2 linked regions of the Homo sapiens genome follow. The protein of the gene in region 2 interacts with the protein of the main gene of each other region in a pairwise test. Each region holds a gene or a part of one and is shown on either strand. Other genes may lie near its edges.

The links.
Region 1: the proteins of EI24 (region 2) and PGRMC2 interact in binary tests that used the Homo sapiens proteins (3 or more experiments, as listed by UniProt).

Annotation. Positions count from the first base shown.
Region 1 is NC_000004.12:128,274,314-128,277,813, reverse strand, and holds part of PGRMC2 (membrane-associated progesterone receptor component 2), read left to right. Parts: intron 1-3,500. UniProt on the Homo sapiens protein: Required for the maintenance of uterine histoarchitecture and normal female reproductive lifespan. May serve as a universal non-classical progesterone receptor in the uterus.
Region 2 is NC_000011.10:125,575,041-125,580,272, reverse strand, and holds part of EI24 (etoposide-induced protein 2.4 homolog), read right to left. Parts: intron 5,011-5,232; coding exon 4,865-5,010; intron 4,019-4,864; coding exon 3,958-4,018; intron 2,770-3,957; coding exon 2,703-2,769; intron 2,538-2,702; exon of another isoform or gene 2,367-2,537; intron 2,141-2,366; coding exon 2,016-2,140; intron 1,325-2,015; coding exon 1,205-1,324; intron 181-1,204; coding exon 69-180; intron 1-68. UniProt on the Homo sapiens protein: Acts as a negative growth regulator via p53-mediated apoptosis pathway. Regulates formation of degradative autolysosomes during autophagy.

The sequences.
Region 1 (3,500 bases), on a different chromosome or scaffold from region 2:
GAGGTATTATTTCAGTTTTACCATACTGCATTCTCTCTAAAAGTCTTGGGACTTACTGGACCTAAGCATAAAAAAATTTATTAGTTCAGTTAATCACTTTTACATATTGCCTCATTTGTTGATAGGCTGATTATAATCTTATTTGAAATAAATTACCCAATACTAAGTGTTATTAGTTACTCAATTTATAATCACAAAAGATTATTGTCAAAACAGGCCTGAAAACTGCACTGTTGATAAACTTTAATTAATTAAAGTTCATCTCTGAGAGATATGGTTTTTAAACTGTGAGAATAATTAAAATATCCCTTTAGAAACACTAAGGTAGCTATATAATCATCCTAATAATCACAAAATTATCTGTTACTACATATTTACTTCCTCCTGGAATTTTCTGTTTATTAAATTAATATTTAAAACATTTTACAATGAGCATATGTTGTTGCTGTTTCAAGAATATGTCACCTCATTCTAACTGATTGTATTAAAGTAAGCAGTTTTAGGATACGGTAACAAATAGGTTTATTGAACTTTAAAATATCTTGACCACAAGTTGGATTGACACTGAAAACTAAATGAAATCTGAATTCTGACTAGTATAGTACTTCATGTTGGGTTTGTTTTGTTTGTTTGTTTGTTTGTTTGTTTGTTTGTTTTGAGATGGAGTCTCGCTCTGTCGCCTAGGCTGGTGTGCAGTGGCGAGATCTCAGCTCACTGCAAGCTCTGCCTCCCAGGTTCACGCCATTCTCCTGCCTCAGCCTCCCAAGTAGCTGGGACTACAGGTGCCCACTACCATGCCCGACTAATTTTTTGTATTTTTTAGTAGATACTGGGTTTCACCACGTTGGCCAGGATGGTCACGATCTCCTGACCTCGTGATCCGCCTGCCTCTTGTTGGTATATTTAACAATAGCTTTGAAATAAAATTTATCTTTAAAATGATGTCCTTGAATATTTGTTATGTAAGTATATTTCAGAGTATTTGCTTTGACTGAATAATGCTGTTCATTTTTTGTAGCACGAATTTGCTTAAAATTGGGAGGCTGTTTTTGGATCAGCATTATATTTTAATATTTGATAAAGCAACAGAATTTAATTCTTCTAGTTACTACTGAACTGTTAGTGTCTAAATGAGCCTTAATAATAAAAAATAACCAGATCATGTAAACTAGCCTTTTTAAAAATAAATTAGGCTGGGCACAGTGGCTCATGCCTGTAATCCCAGCACTGTGGGAGGTTGAGGTAGGCGGATCACCTGAGGTCAGGAGTTCAAGACCAGCCTGTCCACCATATATGGTGAAACCCCCTCTCTACCAAAAATATAAAAATTAGCTGGGCGTGGTGCCACACCCAATAATCCCAGCTACTTGGGAGGCTGAGTGAGGCAGGAGAATCACTTAAACCTAGGAGGCAGAGGTTGCAGTGAGTTGAGATCACACCACAGAGTGTGACTCTGTCTCAAAAAAAAATACTAATACAAATAAATAAATTATACCATGCAACAGACTTAAACCATTTCAAATTGGCTTTATTTGGGGAGCTCCCTATTGTTTTAGTATTATGAATAGCCAAGTATACTTACCAAATATTAGAATTGGTAAATATTTAGGTTTTTTATGTAAGGGGATAACGGAATGGGAAGGTATTGCTGACTTTTCAGATAAGCTCCTGGTTGTATTATGAATGCAGGGAAATCTCCTTTTATTAGACATCAAATCCTTCCTCAGAATAACCCATCCAGTTCCAACTTTAGTTCCTAATGTTATATTCTTTAATGGCCTTACAGAAGGCTGGGCATGGTGGCTTAGGCCTGTAATTCTAACACTTTGGGAGGCAAAGGCAGGAGGATTGCTTGAGGCCAGGAGTTCAAGATCAGCTGGGCAACATAGGGAGACCTTGTCTCTACAAAAAATAAAAGAAATTATGCAGGCCTGGTGGGCCATGCTTCTAGTCCCAGCTATTTGGGAGGTTAGGGCAGGAGGATTACTTGAGCCCAGGAAGTAGAGGCCACAGTGAAATATGATTGAGCCGCTGTACTCCAGCCTGGGTGACAGAGTAAGACCCTGTCTCAAAAAACAACAAAAAAAATTTTTTTAATGGTCTTACAGGAAAGAGCATAGAAAATTATTACTAAAAAGACCTTTGCAGAAGTTAAATGCTTCCTGAGGGAAATTCTAAACATATGGAGAAGACAGCTTAATATAGTTTAGGGAGTGGGGGAATATGTTAATCACTGAATTATTCTTTTCTATTCAAGAGTCAACAGAACATCATTTGTCTGGAATTTGGCTTGGATTATTAACTGTTGACTCAAGTTCACTCTTACCAAGTCAATCATTCCCTACCCCCAGTACCCCAGAAAGAGCATATTTTATGAAATTTTTTATTATTATTATTCATTCAGTGTTGAAGCTTTCTTAGGGAAGTTGGTAGAGAAATTAATAGAGAATGCACTGGTATATATTAATATACTCAAAGATGGAGGGCTTTCTGATTGCTGTTTTTATAATGATTTTATCTTCTCTCCTTTGTATCATTTAAATGTGTTTTATGGCTTATACTCTGAAGTGCCTGAAGTAGATTAATGTTTGCAGGCCATGGAGATAAATACTATAATAGAATGCTTAGAAAAGCTATTAAGTAGAGCTTTTTTGTTAATTCTCTTCCATTTTGATTTAATAAGTATTCTAAAATTTTCATTCCCTTGAAATTTTGTAAGTAGTAAAATGCTCCAGTTTTCATGGTCGTTACTCCATCTTTGGGCTTGTGAGTCTTCTATGTGTTTTCTTGAGGTACACTGGAGGATTTAGGAAAGTGGAAATAGTACTCTCAGTTCTGTCAGTAATTTTAGGCAAATCACACTGAATGCCTCCGCTCCTGTTTTTTATCTGCCAAATGGGGAAGGCAGTCTGTCCCTTCCACTTTGGGAAACTCTGAGAGAGAAAAGTGAGGTTGCTGGAAAATTCTTTTAAAAATTGAACCTATAATTTTCCATTTGTAGATTGTTATGGCCTTTATTAGTTTTATTTTTCCTTTTGTATGTTTCACTTTTTGCTTTTTTAAGTTTATAAGCATTGGTCTAGTCAGCATTAAGGGTAAATATAATGTTTATAGATTTTTTTTATCATTGTTTCTTAGAAATTTTTATTTTTAAACACACTAGTTCTCTGTCTCTGTCTCTCTCCTTGTCCTCCTGAAAACACCCATTGCCACAAAGTGTGTAGAATTTTGCACGCACATGTGCATGTACACACACAGACATAACTGGTTAATACCTTTTTTTTTTTTTTTTTTTTTTCTTTGGAGAAGGAGTCTTGCTTTCTCGGCCAGGCCGTAGTGCAGTGGCATGATCTCAACTCACTGCAACCTCCGTCTCCTGGATTCAAGCAATTCTCCTGCCTCAGACTCCTGAGTAGCTGGGATTACAGGCGTGCGCCACCACAGCCGGCTAATTTTTGTAGTTTTAGTAGAGATGAGGTTTCACCATGTTGGCCAGGCTG
Region 2 (5,232 bases):
GAAGTCTGCTTAGCAGTAGCATTTCCAAACTGGGCCTCCATTTTCTGGATTTCTTTAGATGGACTTACCTTTATTGAACCAACGATATTCAAAGCAGTACAGTGAGTAGAGAAGGGACATATGCAGGAGACTAACCAGCTGACCGACAAGATGGATGGGAAAGAGACTCACAAACATTCCCTGAAGAACAAATATGGAAAATCTTAATCCCAAAGCCTCGGAAACCTAGCACCATTCACCTGTCACTCTCCAATCACTGTCTGAGATAGCTTCCTAGCTGCTTCTCAAGTTTCTAAAAGGCCGAGTGCAGGGTGGGCACAGTGACTCATTCCTGTAATCCCAACAGTTTGGGAGGATGAGGCGGGAGGATCTCTTGAGGCCAAGAGTTAAAGACCAGACTGGGCAACATACTGAGACCCTGTCTCTACAACAAGATTTTTAAAATGAGCATGATGGCATGTGCCTGTAGTCCCAGCTACTCAGGAGGCTAAGGCAGGAGGATTGCTTGAGCCCAGAGTTTGAGGCTGCAGTGAGGTATGATTGTGCCACTGTACTCCAGCCTAGGTGGCAAAATAAGACCCTGTCTTTTATTTATTTATTTATTTTTGAGACAGTTTTGCTCTTGTCGCCCAGGCTGGAGTGCAATGGCGCGATCTCGGCTCACTACAATCTCTGCCTCCTGGGTTCAAGCGATTCTCCTGCCTCAGCTTCCCGAGTAGCTGGGATTACAAGCATGTTGCCACCACGCGCAGCTAATTTTTGTATTTTTAGTAGAGATGGGGTTTCACCATGTTGGCCAGGCTGGTCTCAAATGCCTGACCTTAGGTGATCCGCCCACCTCGGCCTCCCAAAGTGCTGGGATCACAGGCATGAACTACTGCGCCCAGCCGACCCGTCTGTCTCTTTAAAAAAAAAAAAAAATTAGGCATAACTATAAAAAGAAAAAAAGTTTCCACCTGGCAGGACTGGAGAATAACCAGAGTAGCAGAAAAAAGCAGGTAAATTCATGTTTCTTATAATTTTATAATGTAATTTTAAAATTCTCATTTCCGTGGGGAAAAAAAGATTTAAAAATCATTACCTCCCACCAGCATATATATAATACTCTGTATAAATATAATACTCTGTCTTTGTGAAGTTCTCTCTAGTGAAACAGTTTTTCTTTTTAATAAAGCTGCCCATATGCCCAGAAGGTCAGTCTCACCTGAATGAGGAAAAGAGCCTGCAGCAAAAGGTTGAAGAGCATGTCAGCAATTATTTTGCTGACACTAGGGAATGGGTGAGGCTTCCTCCCTGATACCTCAAATGCCAGGTCAGCTATATCCTGTAACAGAGAAAGTGTACCAAAACATGAATTAAATGGCCTTGATATACATCCCCAAAGCTAAGGCCACTAGTCCGCCACTAGAGCTGCCAGTTAAGAAAAGGCTTATTTAAAAATAAGCTGGGCACGATGGCATGTGCCTATAGTCCCAGCTACTCAGGAGGCTAAGGTAGGAGGATTGCTGCCTTATGCCGTGGCTCACGCCTATAATCCCAGCACTTTGGGAGGCCGAGGCAGGCAGATCAGCAGGTCAGGAGTTTGAGACCAGCCTGGCCAACATGGTGAAACCCTGTCACTAATAAAAATACAAAAAAAATTAGCCAGGCATGGTGGCACGTGCCTGTAGTCCCAGCTACTTGGAAGGCTGAAGCAGGAGAATTGCTTGAACCCGGGAGGCAAAGGTTGCAGTGCACTCCAGCCTGGGCGACAGAGTGAGACTGTCTCAAAAAAAAAAAAAAAAAAAAAAAAGCCAAAACGAAAAAGAAAAGGCACCAGACACCTGCCAATGAGATGCTGAGACAATAATTCCATTCTGTAAGAACACAAAGATCAGCTACTGGCTACCTGGCCAAGAAACATTAAGGCTGAAAAACAGGTCCCCCTACATGCCCACTAACTTCACAGGCTGAAACTTGTCACCTGTCAGCCAATCATGCTGCGGGACCCAGACTCCATTCTGCCCTGGACCTACCTGAAACCAAATGGCATTCACCACTTTGCTAAGCACAAACAAGGGGAGCACCCAAAGAGCACTGAAAATTGACGTGAGGAAGAATTCCAGCCACGACCAAACATCTCCATGTAGTGATGGGTCACCTAAGAAAGAGGAAACGAGTTACTAGAAATGGAGAAATGGAAATCCAGAAGACCAAATGCGGAACCCCCATCTCGTGACTATTCTCTGTCTCCTCCTGGATCTTTCTAGTTCTTGCCAGCACATCACTATACCTATCTCAAAGAGTCTAACTCATAATAGACGCACCACATTCTGGCCACAATTCCAATTCAAAGAAACCATAGATATGTGCTGCTTGACACAAACCTGCTTACATGATGGTAACGAGATGCCACAGTGATTACCAGTACGCTATCTGCAGGATACCATCTGGGTTTAAATCTCAGCTTTGCCTCTTACTAATGGTTTAACCTTGGTAACTTGCATTTCCTCATTCATAAAATGGATAGAACAACAGTACCCATTCTTAAAGGGCCTCTAGGAGAATAACGAAATATAAATTTTTAAAAAGAATAAAACAACAAAAAAGAAAATAAACAGTGAAAGCTCCTGGTACACAGGAAATGTTCAGTAAACTGAGGGAGACTGAAACATCATCTCCCACTCTGTCCCCAACAGACAAGGAGCAGGGTATACACTTACCGATAATTCGGGCTGTTACCGACTGAAGCACAGGAATAAATACTCGATAAAACAAGAGGAGACTGAACTAAAGAAAAGAAGCAACAAGGCAAACATCAAAATCCAGTCTTTAAAACAGGAGCTTCAATTTTTAGTGTAATGATTTTATAGATGGGAGTGACTTTTATAAATCAGGAGGCCTAGGCCGGGCGCGGTGGCTCATGCGCGGTGGTTCACTTTGAGAGGCCAAGGCAGGCAGATCACTTGAGGTCAGGAGTTCGAGACCAGCCTGGCCAAGATGGTGAAACCCCGTCTCTACTAAAAATACAACAATTGGTCGGGTGTGGTGGTGCATGCCTGTAATCCCAGCTACTGGGAAGGCTGAGGCAGGAGAATCGCTTGAACCCGGGAGGCAGAGGTTGCAGTGAGCCAAGATCATGCCACTGCACTCCAGCCTGAGCAACAGAGCGAGCCTCCATCTCAAATAAATACATAAATAAATAAATAAAATAAATCAGGAGGCCTGAAAAAGCACCAAAACTGGATCCATTTCTATTTCCCAACACTCCAATTGAGAGATACAAACTTGATATTGCCTATAAAACAATGAAACTTTTGGGGGCATACAGGAACATTTCAAGTAGTATTCAGGCCAAAATACAGGCATGTACTAAGTACACAGGAATACATATTAATTAAATTTAAAACTAACATCTGAAAACATCTGTGAATTGTTTAGATTAAGAAGTGATGAATTACTCTAAATTCTAAGTCAAAGGAAATATTTATCCATTCTTCAAAGTACCCAAATTTCAGTTAAGCCTGCACTGGGATTCTCAGTAAATGGTAGGCAATCTTTTCTGCTATAGGTTTCAATGCAAATTAACTCTTGTTGATCACTATAAGCAGAAGCAGGGAGAACCTTGTTCTTGTCTAGCCGTATCTGCCCTTCCCGAGTCCCCATAGTTGCTGTTAGCATTTTAAAATGTCTAGACAGTGTCAAGAGAAACTGCTACCTCTAATACTTGTGAATGAGTCATTTTAGAAACAAAATTCAAGTGTATATTCAGGGCTGTGACGTTTGCTTACATATAAGTGTGCTTTCCTGAGTGGGAATAAAATCTCTGCAGATGCACAGACTCCTGAGTTATATTTCTAAGTGTACATCAGCAGATGAAAACTATTTGTCTCAGTGTTTCAAGAAAACAGTTCATAGCTATCAACCCAGCAACAATCTGAAGATGCTTATAAGGCACCTGGAATTTAAAGAACTTACCCAGAACACTCCACCATTCCAAGCACAACACTGGAAAATTCTACTAACAATACGTGGCTCACTGGAAAAGATCACATGTATTTAGTTTATAAAGCATAAGTTATTTCCTAATTGTCATTCAGTAGTTCATTTTATATCTTATCTTTTGTGGGTACTGTATTATTTTTCAGTGCCTCATGTTCTCCCAATGTTCTAATGTCAGTCAATGAGAAAAGACTAAAAAAATGGTCAAGCGCAGTGGCTCACGGCTGTAATCCTAACACTTTGGGAGGCCGTGGTAGGCGATCAACTGAGGTCAGGAGTTCGAGACCAGCCTGGCCAACATGGCAAAACCCTGTCTCCACTAAAGAATATAAAAAATTAGCCAGGCGTGGTGGTGCGCACCTGTACTTCCAGCCAGCCGGTTCGCTGAGGCAGAAGAATTGCTTGGACCTGGGAGGCAGAGGCTGCAGTAAGCTGAGATTGCACCACGGCAATCTCAGGTGACAGCTTGGTGACAGGGCAAGAATCCGTCTCAAAAAAAAAAAAAAATGTGTATATATATGGAACCAGCTTTTAAAAGAAAAATAATTTATTTTCTAAAGTCTGATGATGGAAAAGATTAAGAGAAAGTGTGGGGCCAGGGTTCTTCTATTAATACATAAATCCACACAGGCTTCCCTAGAAGTATCTATCAAACCAAATAATATTTTGCGATTCTCTATTCAGCTTTCTGATTTAACACCATGACATTTTTAGCAAGGATTATTGTTAGACCCTAGTTTAAGTCAATGTTGTTGGGGGGAAATCACTTGCAACATTTTTCTGGGAAAAAGCACAAAAGAAATAAAATGGCACTGAAACATCAAGTCACTATGTAAGGTCTTCCCTCCCTTGGACATTTTGATATCAGGCATGCACTCCTTACCTCTCTTGCTTCCGCTCTATACTCTGGGCTCTTCTCTGTGCCAAGACACTACTTGCCCTTCTTCGACGCTGCTCCTCTCTCTTTTGCTGGATTCGAGCATCTAGCTTTGAGATGGTACAAATACCCCAGATGGAGTCTTTGATTCCCTATAGAAAAGGCTATCATTATTATTATTATTATTTGAGACAGGGTCTTGCTTTGTCACCCAAGCTACAGTGCAGTGACTCAATCATAGCTCACTGCAGCCTCCAACTCCTGGGTTCAAATGATCCTCCTGCCTCAGCCTCCCAAAGAGCTATGAGTACAGATGTGCACCACCACACCTGGCTTTTAAATTTTTCTTCTGTAGCGATGGGGATCTCACCATG